Regions from separate parts of the Homo sapiens genome. Here region 2 is linked to region 1. Evidence: fine-mapped expression QTL. Tissue or cell type: whole blood. Region 1 holds a variant in brackets; the other region holds the start of a gene. All regions are shown on one strand. Distances are from middle to middle. Region 1 overlaps LOC105374329 (a long non-coding RNA gene). Region 2 holds the start of NCOA1 (nuclear receptor coactivator 1).

The links. PIP is the estimated chance that this variant, and not a neighbour inherited with it, causes the effect.
Region 2: it holds the start of NCOA1, and the variant in region 1 is fine-mapped to the expression of NCOA1 in whole blood (TOPMed, PIP above 0.99).

Annotation. Positions count from the first base shown.
Region 1 is chr2:24,444,879-24,453,440 of GRCh38, reverse strand. All of the region lies in intron 2 of LOC105374329 (a long non-coding RNA gene), which reads right to left. Among named protein-coding and RNA genes, the nearest start is that of NCOA1, 42 kb to the left of the region's middle. The variant G/A (reference allele first, on the strand shown) is at 4,482.
Region 2 is chr2:24,487,456-24,496,017 of GRCh38, reverse strand. It overlaps NCOA1 (nuclear receptor coactivator 1), which reads right to left and starts at 4,764. Exons shown (of 23, transcript NM_003743.5): 1 at 4,416-4,764. RefSeq lists silencers at 3,992-4,481, 4,636-4,794, 4,772-5,111.

The sequences.
Region 1 (8,562 bases):
ATGACATACATCGACCTACCTGTTCCATCCCATACCAGACCCCAACATTCTTCTCAGTAGTAACTATTCTTTTAAATTTTGTTTTTATCATACATTGCTCTTCTTTAAATTTCATTGCACATTTGCGTGGGCCTAAACAGTATACTAGTTTTATTTGTTTTGAATGTATTATATGTTGTCTTCTAGGACTTGTTCTTTTAGCTCAATACTATATTGCTAAGGTTGATCAATAATGTTGAGATCATACTCTATTCATTTTCACCATTGTGTAACACTCAATAGCAGGACTGTACCACAATTTATTTAACCATGTTTATCAGTGGTTTAATAAATTGTTGCTATTACAAATGGATTGTGCCATGAACATTTTTTTATGTGTGTTCTGGTAAACATATGCTAATGTTTTCATTGAACTAGAGATATGCAAGATTTAACAATCTTAAAACTGCATAAGAATTAAAGCTTGACAGTTCACTTACAGAAATTATGTTAAGCGTGTCTGGGGAAGAGCATATAATACAAATTCTTCACTACTGAAGCAAAGGAAAATATGAATTATACACTAATTTCACACCAGTTAGGATTTGATTTGTCTATAACATAAAACCCAAATTAATCATTCCTTAAACGTATATGTTGCCCTCATGTAAAACATCTGGAGATGAGAAGTCTAAGGCCAGTTTGGCAAGGTCTGCGGAATTGTCATGAACCCAGGCCTCTTCCAGCTTTTCAGTTTGCCATCCCTAGGGTGTGACTTTTATTCTTCTGGTCCAAAAGGGTTGCTCAACTTCTAGTCATTAAATCTGCCTCCTCATCAGCAAGAAGGAGAAAAGGAAGGAAGGAGAGTGCATCTTCCATTCAAGGACACTTTCCCCAAATTGCACGTGACATTTCTAATTGCATCCTATTAACTAGAAGGGGGACACACGGCTCTTGCTAGTTTCAAGGGAGGCTGGAAAATGTAGTCTTTATTCTGGTCATCTTGTATTCAGCTAAAAGTTAAGGGTCCTATTACCTAAACGAATGGGAAAATAGACTTTGAAAACAGTTAATAGTCTCGGAGAATTATTACAGCTAAAGTGAAAGCAGAAAAGAAACCAACCCATCAAGGCCTTATTTTGAGAAGTAGAAAGAAAAACTAAACACCGATAACATCACCACCCAGTGATGACCACGGTTAACTTGTTGAGATGTATTTTTCCAGACTTTTTCATCCATATAAAAAACTACATATATGTCTCCAGTATAGCCATAATAATACCTATATCTATACCAATATATTCACATGTATTAGTCTGTTTTCAAGCTGCTAATAAAGACATACCTGAGACTGGGTAATTTATACAGGAAAGAGGTTTAATGGACTTACAGTTCTACATGGCTGGGGATGCCTCACAATTATGGCAGAAGGCAAGGAGGAGCAAGTCAACGTCTTACATGGATGGCAGCAGGCAAATAGAGAGTTTCTACAGGGAAACTCCCATTTTTAAAACCATCAGATCTCATGAGACTTATTCACTGTCCTGGGAACAGCAGGGAAAAGACTTGCCCCCATGATTCAATTATCTCCCACCAGGTTCCTCCCACAACACGTGGGAATTCAAGATGAGATCTGGGCGGGGGACACAGCCAAACCATATCACCACACATTACTTTTAAAGGGAAAATTTAAATTAGTGCCATCAGTCAAAGGGAAAGATAGCTGGGTTGTTTTCCTCCCTCCTTAAATTCTTAATAAACTTCATGGGAAATGCAACATTGGAGCAACTAGAGAAAAGAGGAGAATGTGGTCCATAATTGAATGCTGATATTTCTCAGGGGTGCCAAATGCAAAATATTAATAACTTTAACTGCATACAGGATGCTCTGGAATAAAGATTTAGAGGTGAATTTAAAATAAAATAATTAGTCATCCCAGAAAACCACAGGCATGTCTTCAGTGGGGATGGTAGAAAACTTTGTGGACAGAAAAATTAATGGACACAAGAACTTTGGGGAAAGCCAGACTAATGGAGTTTTCTAGATCATAGGTTAAAAAGAGTTACAAGTATCAATAACTATTTACCCTGAAGCACACCTTACCAGATGAGCACATGCTAGGCTCTCTGTTCTCTGTTTAAAAGTCTCCTAGATAGTGAACCAACATGGCATATGACCTTTTGTTAAGAAAAAGGACTATTATACAGAGCTGCAAATTCACCCAACAAACACTTACTAGGACTTACTACATGTCAGGTACTTGAGTACAAAAAAAGAACATACCATGGTCCACATCTTCATGGAGACTGTAGTACAGTAAGGCAGACAAGCACCTATAAAGATGAATTGGCTGGGTACAGTGGCTCATGCCTGTAAATCTAGCACTTTGGGAGGCTGAGGTGGGTTGATTTCTTGAACCCAGGAGTTGGAGACCAGCCTGCGCAACGTGATGAAACCCCATCTCTTAAAAAAAAAAAGATGAATTGAAGTTTACTATGTGTCAGACACTGTACTAAGCACTTTACATGCATTGTCTGATTTAGCATTTATGACTATCTATTCTTACCCTCATTTGACAGATCAAGAAAATGAAGCTTATAGGTCAGGTAATTTGATTGAGGTCACAAAGCTAGTAAGTGGCAGAGCTAAGAATCTATGTCACATCTGTCTGACTTTAGAGTCACCACTCTGGGCCACTGAGCTAAACTGTCTTACAGCCCAAGTAGGCAGTGCTATAATAGAAGTTGGTACAAAATTCTGAAGGAACACAGAAAAAGCATCAAATATCTGCCAGGGGAACATTTATACAGTAGTGTCTTAGCCTGTTCAAGAAGCTATAACAAAATACTATACACTGAGTGGCTTATAAATAACAGAAATTTATTGCTCACAATTCTGGAGGCTGAAAGTCCAGGATCAAGGTGCTAGCAGATTTTACATCTGATGAGAACCCACTTTCTCATAGAAAGGCCATCTTGTCATTGTAACCTCACATGGCAGAAGGGGTGGGGATCTCTCTGAAACCTTTTTCATAACGGCATTAATTCCATTCAGGAGCATTCTGCCCTCATGACCTAATCACCTCTCAAAGGCCCCATCTCTAAATACCCTCACATTGGGTATTAGTTTCAAAATATGAATTCTGGGATGGGGGGGTGCACATAAACATTCAAAGCACACAAAGTAGCATAAAGATAAGAAAATATGAAGTCTAAATATAATGTCAGTAAGTGTTAAAATAAAGATCAATGTGAGCATTAATAAATGAATGGAAAATATGAGATTTCTTCCATAGAGCCCATTAAACCTGAATTTTATAGGTAGCTTTTCTTACTGTTTTTGGCTACACAGTTCGATTCTATATCATCTAATGCCTTTATCCTGTTTTAGTAGTTATTCATCTATTATTGACACCTTCATTTTTTTATCAAGCTATTTTCTCTCTTTTTTTTTTTTTTTGAGATGAGATCTCATTCTGCCACCCAAACTTGACTGCAGTGGCACAATCTTGGTTCATTACATCCTTGACCTCATAGACTCAAGTGATCCTCCTGCCTCAGCCTCCCAAGTGATCCTCCTGCCTCAGCCTCCCGAGTAGCTGGGACTACAGGCATGCCACCACACCCAGCTAATTTCCTTTTTTGGTATTTTTGGTAGAGACAGGGCTTTGTTATGTTGCCTAAGCTGGTCTTGAACTCATGGGCTCAAACAATCTGCTCACCTTGCCCTCCCAAAGTGCTGGGATTACAGGCATGAGGCACCATGCCCAGCCTCAAGCTGTTTTCTCCATATACACTGCCTCTACATAATTATCAGCTCATAGTCAGCAAAATGAACCATGTGTGATCCCTTTTAAAAAATCACTGACTAGGGTATATTCTAGCATACTTGGCACTTAGTACATGCTTGAGTTGAAGTGATAACCATTTATTTAAAATTGATTCAGAGTAATGTATATCAGAGATCAGCAGAGAAGATCCAACATATGGAAAATTGGAGTTTATAAAGACTGAAAACAAAACATTAAAACAGAATATTTAAAATTATAATTACCTAATAAAAATGTCTAGAAATAAAAGAATACCCGAATCTACCCATTGAAAGGAAGATACAGAGTTGAGTATGAAGACTAGGCAAGGGCCAGATCATGTAGATCCTTGTAGGCCACTGTGAGAAATTTAAACTTCAATCTGAACGCAATAAAAGTCCTTTGGAGGACTTCAATCAGAAGCACCAGCCTGGGCAATAGGGTGAGACCCCCAATCTCTAAAAATTAAAAATAAAAAAAATAGCCAGGCACGGTGTGTTGTCCTGTAGTCCCAGTTACTAGGGAAGATGAGGCAGGAGGATTGCTTGAGCCCAGTAGTTCAAGGTGAGGCTGCCTGGGTGACAGGGATTTTCTCTCTTAAAGGAAAAAAAGGAAGCACCATTGTTTACACAAAATAGGGAAGTAGAAATGTGTGTGGACTTGAAAAAAAACTAAATATGGGAATGAAGAAATG[G/A]TTTTATTTCACAACACAAGGCCTTTCCACTTCCACTTTAATGATGGCAATAGAGAATTGCACACATTCCTTCCATTTATCAAAATTTTCCCCATAAAGAGACTAACTTTATGCAAACTTTTTGGCATGAAAATGCTGGGCACTAAGAACAGCAAGCAATTTGTGGATTAAAGATATAAAATTAGCACTAGAATTGTTGAGATAAGCCTGGTTTATCCTGGCCAGATGATAAGCATGGGAAGTGGCTGGGTAATCAGAAACTAGTTGTCAAGTTAGAACAAGAGCTCCAAAATTATAACTCAGGATTGAGGACGAGACAGTGTGAGGAGGAAAATTCAGAAAACAAAGCTCAGGAGAAGGCCAGAACACTTTACACGGAGCATATCCTGGGAAATCAAAGGAAAAAAATGTCTATTAAAGGGAAGGGTGGTAGAAATGAGATTAGAGAAAAAAAAAATCAGAAAGATCAAAGAAAATCTGGTGCTTTCCATCCAAATCTGTACCTTAATGGATAGAGAAATATTAGGGGCTTCTCTGTCAAAGATTTCATTTTAACTTCACTGTTTATCTTATTTATTTATTTTTTTTTAATTCTTAAGTTTTCACCCTCTGTACTCAAATTATATGTAATTTTCGATTAAAACACTTACATGGATTGTTTTGGTTTTGACAACATGGAATATTAAGCTAATGTGAACTAACTCTCACTACAAATATACTAAAATGCTTTATAAAATAATACAAAAATTTAATTACATAGTCAAGACTGAGAGAAAGAAAGGAAAAAAGAAAAAAAAAAAAAGGAAACCACAAATCCCAAAAACAAAGAGTGATCCATATTAGTGCAGTAAATCCAATTATGCTGTAGTAAACTGGAAAAGTGGATATTTTTTGTGCCTTGAAGCTACAGAAATCCCCAAACTGGTCCAGGATCCATAAAATTTCTTAAGTCCTAGCAAGAGAAAATGTAAAACATCAAAGCAGAGTGACACTCACAGTTCAGGGCACTAAGATGAAGGAAAAAGAACACCTTCTTCAAAAGTTCACAAAATATAAAAGAGATGAATCAATGAACCAGCACGAGGGAGAGCTCATATGTACAACAATGGGAAGAATTTGTATCCTAAGAACTAGCTATCACAGCAAATCGGAAGGAGACTACTTACTACACTAAATATCTATTTAGGTTACAGTTATTAAGGAGTTGACATCAAATTTTAAAACTTCTACTCTGTAACTTCTGTGAGGATGATGAAAAGATAAGGCACGGACTGGGAGAAAATATTTGCAAACCACATATCCAACAAAGGACTTGTATCTAGAACATGTAGGAACTCTCAAAACAGTAAAAAAATAAAATGAAATAAAATAAAAATCTAATTTTAAAATGGGCAAAAGATATGCCCATATATTTCATTTGAAAATAAATACAGGGCTGGGTGCACTGGCTCACGCCTGTAATCCCAGCACTTTGGGAGGCCAAGGTGGGTGGATCACCTGAGGTCAGGAGCTCAAGACCAGCCTGGCCAAAGTGGTGAAACCCTGTCTCTACTAAAAATACAAAAATTAGCTGGGCATGTGGGTGCGCACCTGTAGTCCCAGCTACTTGGGAGGCTGAGGTGGGAGAATCACTTGAACCCAGGAGGCAGAGGTTGCAGTGAGCTAAGATGGCGCCACTGCACTCCAGCCTGGATGACAGAGTGAGACTCCGTCTCTAAATAAATAAATAAATGGAGTAAACTATCAATACATAGAACTTGAATGGATCGCTAGGGAATTATGCTGACTGAAAAAAGCCAATCTCCATAGGTTATATGCTGTATTATTCTACTCATAAAACATTCTTGAAATAACAAAATCGTAGAAGTAGAGAACAGATTAGTGGTTGCCAAGGGTTGGGGATAAGGCAGAAGCATGAGGCAAGTGCTGGTGGTTCTAAAGAGGCAGCATGCTGCAGCCTCGTGGTGATAGAACAGTTCTGTAACTTGATTGTGGTGGTGGTTACACAAAAATATACATGTGGTCGGGCTTGGTGGCTCACCTTTGGGAGGTAGAGGTGGGTCTTGAGCCCAGGAGTTCGAGACTAGCCAGGGCAACATGGCGAAACCCTGTCTCTACAAAAAGTACAAAATAATTAGCCAGGTGTGGTGGCATGCACCTGTAGTCCTAGCTACTCAGGAGGCTAAGGCAGGAGGATTGCTTGAACTGGGGAGGTCGAGGGTACAGTGAACCATGATCATGCCACAGCATTCCATCCTGGGTGACAGAGCGAGACCCTGTCTCAAAAAAAATTTTAAAACTCCAAAGATTTATTTATTTAGAGACGGAATCTCACTCTGTCGCCCAGGCTGGAGTGCAGCGGCGCCATCTCAGCTCACATGCAATAAAATTTCTTAAAACTGCACACACACACACACACACACACACACACAAACATGCCTATAATCCCAGTGCTTTGGGAGGCCAAGGGGGGTGGATCATGAGGTCAGGAGATCGAGAGCATCCTGGCTAATACACCACCATCCTGGCTAATACATCCTGGTGATACACCGCCTCTACTAAAAATACAAAAAATTAGCTGGTGTGGCGGCAGGCGCCTGTAGTCCCAGCTACTCAGGAGGCTGAGGAAGGAGAATCACTTAAACCTGGGAGGCAGAGGTTGCAGTGAGCCGAGATCACGCCACTGTACTCCAGCCTGGGGGACACAGCGAGACTCTGTCTCAAAAAAAAAAAATTGGTGAAGTATGAATTAAATAAATGATTAAAGATAAGTAAGGAAAAAAGAAACCATACTGAAAAAACCTAGGCAGATTTTTAAAATACAGATATAACTTTAAGGAATAAAAACAACTATCACTGAAATGAAAAGCTTAAACAAGTTAAGCAGCAGGTTAGACATAGCTGAAGAGAGATTTCTTAACTGAAAAACAGATTTGAATAAATCACAGAGAATGCAGTACAGAGGGATTAAAGAGAATGGTAAATGTATGAGAAAAGTTAAGAGACACAGAGGACGTAATTAGAAAATACTATATACTTCTAATAGGAGTTCCTGAAGGAGAAGACAGACGGCTAGGCAATGTTTAAAGAAATAATAGATCAAATGTTTCCATACTTATAAAAAAGATCTAAGTCCTTACATTGAAGGAACAAGCTGAAAAAAACACACACACGAATGATGGTAAAACTACAGAATATCAGAGATAAAGTCTTAAAAGCAACCAGAGACAAGACATATGACTACAAAATAATAACTATTAGACTGACAGCAGATTTCTAATCAGCAGCAACAGCATCTTAAAGACTTGATTAGGCCAGGTGCGGTGGCTCACCCCTGTAATCCCAGCACTTTGGGAGGCCGAGGCGGGCGGATCACGAGGTCAGGAGATCGAGACCATCCTGGTTAACACAGTGAAACGCTGTCTCTACTAAAAATACAAAAAATTAGCCAGGCATGGTGGCAGGCGCCCACAGTCCCAGCTACTCAGGAGGCTGAGGCAGGAGAATGGCGTGAACCCGGGAGGCGGAGGTTGCAGTGAGCCAAGATCACGCCACTGCACTCCAGCCTGGACTACAGAGCCAGACTCCATCTCAAAAAAAAAAAAAAAAGACTTGATTAATATCTTCAAAGAACTAAGAGAATATAACTATTTAAGCTAAAATCATATTCATAACTAAAGTATCCTTTAAAATAAGGCTAAAATGAGAATACTTTCAGAGAAATAAAAAAAGTTTATTATTCACAGGGTATCACTGGAGATCTATGAAAATCTATGAAAATTGTTTCTTCCTGGAGTACCTGAAGAAAGAAATTGTAACAAAAATGATGACGTGAGATGCAAAAAAAAGTTAAGATAAATCGGTAAACATGTAAATTAAATCTATACAAATATTGTAAGAACTATAGTAATAATATTGAAAACCAATGTGGGGTTAGAAATAATTGAAATTATAGAAACAACAGAAATTATTGATTGGTAAGTAAAATACCAATCAAGAATAAGATGTCAAATGGGAAATAGGGGAGATCAAATTTAAAGAATATAAGGATGTGGTGGCTCATGCCTGTAACCCTAGAGCT
Region 2 (8,562 bases), 43 kb before region 1:
GACCAGATTGCAGAACCAGAAATAAAGGAAAAAATTTGAGAAATTACAAAGAAAAGAATGCGAGAATTTGGTGATGAATTCGCTAATGAAATACCTGTTAGTCATTAATGTCTATGTGCCAATCATATGCTAAACACATTTAATAATTTTAAAGATTACAATATGAGGACAAGTACGTTACTCCAATTTTAAATATAAAAACTGAAGTTTAGTGTGGTTAAACAGCTCAAGGCTACATCAACCTAAGTATCTGGAAGAGCTAGGACACCTCTGTCTGTCTGGTCAGAGTTTCTTTTCTAAAAGATGCTTTAAAATTGCCCCACAATTATAAGCTGAAAGGGCAAAAATGAAGCATCACTCTGGAAAAACTGGATAATCCAGTACAATTAGAATTCTGGTCCTGATAATGGGTGCGTTTTGCTTCCGTGCTTGCACCTATTTTTATGAGTCTGGCCTGTCTGTGCCTAATGGTCAGGTCAGGGCTACTCAGTAAAACCAAACATCCCTGCCCTCCACACACTAAAACATACTCTCGGGGAGTGGTAAGAACAAAATATATCCAAGATGAGGGTGAGTCTTCCATAACTCCTCGAGTGACTAGAGCTTCTATTTTGGCATAAGCTACTTATCTTTTAAATATGATAACCATACTAAGCTTTTCTAAAAGCCTATCACTCCAAGGAGCCTCAAAAATTCTGTGTTGCAGATGGGGTTATGGGGGAAGAAGCATGGATACAACTCACTTTACTTAAACTTATGGAATTGGACTTATATGTTGGTATCAGCGTTTTATAATAATTTCCCTTATTCAGCCATGTATCCTGCAGAAATATATAATAATCATTTCTATACATTAATCCAAATACTATAGCCCACAAACCATTTTCCAGAACTAAGCTATTAAAAAAAAAAAACAAAAAAAAAACACCTTCATCTCCTTATGAAATGAAGCAACCAACATTGGTACCTAGTTGCCACTAGGCCATTTTATGACCTCTGACACCAAATGTTGAAAGGCACAAGGTCTAACTAAAATATAAAGAGAAAAGGAAAGGTTTTAAATGACTAGACCTCATCTTCAATGTTAAGAATAGAACATGAGGCCTATCCTTAGTTGCCAATCACCAACGGCTAAACTACTGCTAATCTGGGAAAGAAGCAATTTTAAAAAGTCCTTTCCTACAGTCTAGTCTTCCCAAATGGGTAGGAAAGTTAATCTAAGATAGGGAGAAATTTATACGGTTCTGCAGCCCAGATCAGATACAGTGTTCTGACATCCACCTCCTGAAACACATGGATTTCACCCGAGCCCACACCGACCACAGCATCCAATATTTGCAAGTAATGCAAAATGGAACCCTCCAAAACATTTTTGGACCTCTGCCAGGAAAGCAGCTGATGGTCCTCTGAGAATTTCTGTTATAATCATATTTAAAAGGCAAAAACCAATGCCAAAACAATCATGAGCGTCCCGGGGATCTCCTATGCTCCATGACTTAGATTTTACTCCGTGTTGTGCGTTGTATTGACCTCCCACACCTGCCCTATAATGAAAACTATGTTAAGCCACATGGCTTAAGGCCAGCCAACTCCATAAGATATGCAACATAACATTCAAACAATGTGGAGTCCTTGGGAGACGCAGCAAAAAAGACAAACTAAAGTACGGAACAGAGGTAGTATCTAAGAGGAGGTATATGAAATTGATGACAACCAAGCAGGGAGAACTAAAACATCCTTGAAAAACAATTATAAATCACAGTCTAGTATACAGATTCCCTATACAGAATTGGGGAAAAGAATTTCAAGAAAATGCCCAATACCCTCTCTCCACCACTCCACCTTTCAGCACCTCTATACCACCCTCATCACTTACTCAACATTTAGTCCTAGTGAAGACCGCTCACTGGATTAGCAGGATCAAGAAGACATGCACAGAACATTCCATTCTGAGAACAACATCTTTAAATTATTTAGGCTTGTTTACCACCCTTCCCTATAGAGTAAAAGCATGAAATGTTGCCAGCACTTTCACAATATACACCAGTTAGCACCATAGCAACCCAATCTTCTGCCCACCAAAAGATTAACACATAAGCAGAAAACAGGAAATTCAACAAAAATTAAAGTTTGACCTTAGACTCCCTCAACAGTTAAATGTCTTAAGTAGTAGCAGTGTCTTTACATCACACCCGCTTCATGCTACCCTTACAGCTTCCTGGCATAAGCAAGTTCTTGGGATTATACAAACTGCTGCTTCTGTTTGCAGCCCAGATTTCTAGAAATGAAACCCTGGAATTGAGGGAGAAACAAAAACAAATGTTCGCAGAAAGAGGCAGGAAGAAGCATTGTCTATATAATCCTAGTTTAAGTGAAACAATCACCATTAGCTCCATCAAGCACTTTTTTTTTTTTTCCAATAAAACCACTGCAGATCTAAAATACTCTCTTGGTTTAAACCACACAAAAAGCAATTTAATAGGCACAATCCTACAGGTTTTCTGAGAGAAATAAGGAAGAGATCAAGTGTAAGCTACGTAAAATTCACGTTTTGCACCTTATAAAGCAAACTTCAATGTTGTTAAATAACCAGTAGAAAATATCTACAAAAATCAAACTAAACACCTGTTCTTATAAGCAGCAGTCCTCTATTTTCTCTCTAAACCATATATTCCCAACTCAGACCCTCTCTGTGACCCACTGTTCCCAAAGCATAGAGTCTGAAGAAGAAATATAAAACATTTCGGACATTCGTTCACAAAACCAAATTAGACCTTTCCACAAAGTACAGGAGATAAAACAGAAACACTTCCATTTTATCTAATTTATGGCAAATAGTTCAAGGAATGCCTATTTGTTAAGCTGAATCAAACCCCACTGCTACCTTTAACCCAAAACTATTTCTAGTTGAAGATCCAAGAGACCTAAGCAAATACTTTCTTTTCACATTATTCTCAACATGAAGAAATCCGACCCCCTTCCTACAACATCATAGGAGGCCCCTCTGGCCAACTTTCGTTGTTATTGTTGTTGTTTTGTTTGCTTTTTTTTTGAGACTAGCCTCCAACCAATTCCAGAAGAGGAGACAAACCTCAAACAAATTTAACCCTTGAGATCCATCCCTCAACTGTATCATATAATCTACGCTTCACGGCAGTAATGTTTTAAGCAGACACTTGATTTCTTAATCACTGAAATGTAAGCACCAGCCCTCACAAATCATCGCCACAGAGATTCCTCTTGGCATCCACAGAGGGTGCTGGGACTGCAATTCACTCAAGAACCCTTTACTCACCAACATCACACTCGACATTAAAAACTCACCGTCTCCGAAGAAAAAATGTCACCTTCTGCACAAGGACACCTGCCTGTTCAACACCTCTACAAGAAACGAGGAGGGCCAAGCATGAGAGGCTAACAGATCCTCCAGCTTAAAGTTTTCCTCCCCATGAAACTCTCCGGACACAACACCGTGGCCTGTCCTTGTCACACACACACAGGCTGTATTGTCAACCCCTCCGTCTCCCTCTAACGTCGTCAGACTGGGCAGTGTCTACCCATGGGGGTAACTGCTTTTAAATAAAATAAAAAAGCAGCCACCACAGCTGGGTAGTAAGGACTGGAGACCCTGGGTGTCCGATTTTTTCAGGTCTTTTACAAGGGACTAGAGAGCGGCCCGAATTCTGTCACTGCCCACTAACCAACCCCACCTCCCAATCGCCTCGTCAACATGTTTGCTTCCCTTCCTCGGCCCTTTCGGCTGAATCCCAGGAAGGGGACCAAACCCGGGCCGCGACAGGAACATGTCCAGTATCCATCCCATGTCTACCTCCGAAACCCCTTCTCGGGAGAAGGGGCGAGCAAGCGCGCCGGGGTCAAACCCAAGCGCCGTCGAGGGCTGCGCCGACGGAGAGGGACGCCGCGGTCGCCCCCATTTCGCGGTCCCGGCAGGCGAGATTCCGAGAGGTGAGCGGGCCGGCCAAGGTCACGGCGTCGTCGGGGCCGAGGGGCGCCCGCGCCGACTTCCGGCTCCCCCTCTCGGCGGCGGCCCGGGGCGCCCGCTCCCCACGCCGGGCAGGCGGCCGCGCAGCTCGCACCCCCTCCGCGGATGCTCGCCCTCTCCGCGCTAACTAGGGCAACTGGAAAAGAGGCGGAGAGAAGTCGCTGCTGCAGCGATTTCCCCCGGCGGGGAGCAGCCCCCAGCTGGTGCCCGTGACAGCTGCGACCTCCGCCCCCTCCAGCCGCGCCGGGCCGCGAGGGGAACTCGGGGAAGTGGGAGGAGGATGGAGCGGGAGAAAGGAGAGCAGGGGGCGGAGGGGCGCCAGCTGCTCCCCGCCCCCTAGGGCCTCCGCGGCCGCGCGGCTCGTGACAGCTGCACCCACCGGGAGGCTCCGCACCCGCAGCCCGCCACTCACCTGCCGCCGCCGCCTCTGGGCCCCGCTCACCGGCGCCGCACTCGTCCGCGACCGTGGCGGCGGCGCCGCCCCGGCCTCCGCCGCTCCTCGGGCCCGGCGCCGCGGCTCTCCGGCCCCCTCCTCCGGAGCAGGGGTCCCCCCGCAGGGGGATGCAGAGGGAACCTGACGCAGGCTCCGCTCGAGGGAGCAGCAGCGAACAGGCGGCGGAGGCCCTCAAGGCCGCGAGGCAGCCGTCGGAGGACAGAGCTCAGCAAATCGCGTCAGACTCCCGCTCGCCCGGCCTGAAGAACAGGCATTTCAGCCGCTCTCCGCGGCCGCCATGTTCTCCTCCTCGGCCGCCACCGCCGCCGCCGCCACCGCCCCCCGCTCGCGGCACCGCCCCCTTCGCGCCCCGCCCCGCCCCGCCCGTTCCCGGCCGCCCGCCTGCCCGCCCGCCGCACTTCCCCTGCCGGCTCCGGCCGCCCGGGCCGCCGCGACCCGGTGCCCGCGAGCTCCGACAGTGCGCCCGGGACAGCGCGCCCCCAGCCCGCCGGGCCTGCCGGGCCCGCCGAGCGAGGAACCGCCCCGCGCCCTCTGCCGGCCCGCCCCAGCCGGCGTCCTAACGAAGTGTGGGAAAGGAGGCCCGAACTCTTCCCCGCCCGTCTCAACTCCTCCCCGCCCCTCTCCTGCCCTCCCCTCGGGGCGTTCCTCCCACTGCTGCCGGGAAGCGGCCTCGAACACCAGGGCGCTCGCAGCTAGGCCGCCGGGCCTGCCGCCTCCCGCTGTTCTTTATCTTTCTGGGAAGGTGTCGGAGCGGCGAGAGGCCCTGCGGACGGGGCGGAGTCGGCTCCGGGCCTGTCCCTCCACTCGGGCGTTCTGTTACTTTGAGCGAGACATATCCCGCGGGCCTCGTTTTTTATTCTGTAAAATTGGGAGGTGGTTGCCTAGATGATTTCACAGGCTATTAGACAAGAGAAAAGGAAGATCGTCTGCCCCCTTCGTTTTACAGATGAAAAGATCTGCCTGACCCGTTCTGGCTCTGCAATTCCATGAATTATCTAAAATGTCTGTCATTCACAGATCTTTCCCCTCAAGGGGCCCACACCTTTCTTCTTATCTCCCTTTTCTTTTTTTTTTTTTTTTAACTTCTCTAATAGAAGTGCTACTTCCAAAAGTAGAGTGTTCTTGTCACCAGAGGAATCGAACAGCGGCTGAACAGCCTCTCTGAGCTGCGATGGCCTTATCTGGACCGCATCCCGCATTCCAAAGGCTGGCAATGCAATATATACCTATGTCTCTCCCTGGGTTGTCCTAAGCATGAATGAGTCACTCGCCGTGGAAGTGCCTTGTAAAGCATACATCTGTCCATTCCTTTCTTTTATTCTTACCCCATTTCGCACTCTTACCCTTCCTCAATCCTGTCCTGCTGCTGCTGTCTCCCGGCGTTTCCTGCTGTTTCGCTTCCTGTGTGTTCTCCCCTAAATCAATCTCTGTAAATCCTTAAGCCCTTCCCACCCTTCTCCCAACTGGGGAACCTGACAGCCTTGAAAACACCAATCTCCGTGGCAGCTCTCTGAGTCGACGGGCAGCTTCTTTCACAGGCAGGTACTACTGTATGCTTTCACCATCCTCTTCCTATCCTTGTCACGCTCATAAAGTAATCGCTAGACCACACCCCCACATGCATTCATATATTCATTCATTTATATATTCATTCCCCTGATTCTTATCGGAGACCTACTACTGGGGCCCTAGGTGCATCTCCTGAGCTCTGGCTTAGCAGTACCTCTAGCCACCCGCAGAGTCCCTATCCCCAATAATAGCTGAAAATACCCGGGCACTCATGAGTTTCGTCCCCTAATGTAGGGCCTACTTCCCAATCTAGTCCAATGCAGACTGTGTGAAAGTGCCTTGTTCTAGCCTCTGGTGCCAACAAATGAGCCACTTGTGCAAGGTACTCCTGTCTCCACTAGACTCTAGTAAGTGCTGAAGGCCAAATCTAGTGGCCACTTCAGTCCTACTGTCGTGTGGCCTTTCTACAGCACGTGATACTGCTAACTCCTCCTTTTTGAAACTCTCCTCCCTTGTCTTCAATATGAGTCTCTCTACCTGATTTCTGAACTTGCCTTCGTTTGCACTTTTCTTGGGCTGCTCCTTTTTTACGGGGCCATAAAAAATGTTGGTATCCTCAAGGTTTTATTTTTTTCCTTCCTTTCCTCTGGCTTCGGTTGACTGTTTATTTCCACAGCTTCAACTGTTAACAAAACAACTCCTGAATTTCCTTCTTCCAATCTCCCACTCTGCAGCCCGGGGTCGTAATTAACTTTAAAATATCCTCAAGACACACAGTGCTAAGATTTTGTTGAATGACAAATTATTTAGGTGTTAATTTATATTGCCATAACCATCCATGTATGCTAAAGAGAGAGTTCTTTTCTAGAATGGTACTGTTTCTTTTTTGTTGTTGTTGAAACAGAGTCTCGCTCTTGTCGCCCAGGCTGGAGTGCAGTGGCGCGATCTCAGCTCACTGCAGCCTCTGCCTCCTGGGTTCAAGTGATTCTCCTGCCTCAGCCTCCCGAGTAGCTGGGATTACAGGCACCCGCCACCACGCCCGGCTAATTTTTTGTATTTTTAGTAGAGACAGGGTTTCGCCGTGTTGGCCAGGCTGGTCTTGAACTCCTGACCTCAGGTTATCCACCAGCCTCGGCCTCCCAAAGTGCTGGGATTACAGTCATGAGCCACTGCGCCTGGTAATGTTTCTTAAATAATAACTCTTTGACTTTTTTCTCCTTCCTCTACAAGTCATAATCACTTGTCAAAGCAGTTATAACACCCTTTTATGTCTCCAATTGGTAATCTTTTCTCTGGTCATACTCAACTTCTCTCAGACTCCATCTACTTTTACTAAACAGGCCCATTTTACTAATCCACCCGAGCAACCCTAAATATAGGGCCAAAAGATTCATTAGATTTACTTCGTGACTGTACAAGTAGCCTCTCTAAAATCCATTTACCTTAGCTATTTAAAATTTATTTACTCCCAAAATACAATGCCAATCAACAAGGAAGACTAACTCCAATTAAATGAAAATGCTTTGAAGATATTTATAAATAAAAATGTAAGACAACATTTAACTCTTATAGCCCAGATAGAACTGGTTTTAGTCCAAACCCTATTGTTTCCATAAATTAATATAATCCTTTGGTGGACTAGAAACAGCCTAGTTCTACGGGCAAAATCTAGAACATACCTGTTGGATTTTCTCCAGAGCATAATAGATTTCCAGTTCTATAAAATATATGGCTAGTGTGCATGAAATTACTCCAGTTACTGAGGCAAGAATTGATTTAACTTTGACATTCTTTTTTTCAAATAGTTTTTTGTTTTATAATAATTGATACAGACTCACAAAATATTCAGTCAATAAAGAACAGCACAAAAAGTTTAAAAATAAACTTTTTCAAGCCAGAGAGAAACATAGTAAACATGTTTCCACACCTTTCTCTATATATATTTGCACATATAAATACACTATATGTAGTCAATTTTACATAAAAATAAAATCACGCCTGTAATCCCAGCACTTTGGGAGGCCGAGACAGGCGAATCACCTGAGGTCAGGAGTTCAAGACCAGCCTGGCCAACATTGTGAAACTCTGTCTCTACTCAGTGTGGTGGTGGGTGCCTGTAATCCCAGCTACTCAGGAGGCTGAGGCAGGAGAATCATTTGAACCCAGGAGGCAGAAGCTGCAGTGAGCCAAGATCGCCTCACTGCACTCCAGCCTGGGCAACAGAGTGAGACTCCATCTCAAAAAAATAAAATAAATAAAATAAAATCACATGATAAATGCTCATCAGTAATCTGGTGCCTTTTACTGTACAATGTATTTTCATCCTAATAGTTAAATACTCTTGCATTGTGTATCTGTTTAGCCATTTAATTCCTTACTAAAAATGTTTACATTGTCTGTATTTTTGTTTGTATATTTTTGTAAATCATGCTGTAATTCTAATGCATGCCTCCGTGCAGTTTAGAAATTATTTTCTTTAAATTTCTAGAAGATTAATTGTTGGCTCAAAGGGTACATGTTAATTTTTTTACTACATTATTTACCAAACTGGCCTCCAGAAAATTGTTTCAATCTGTGGTCCTAGCCATAGTGCATG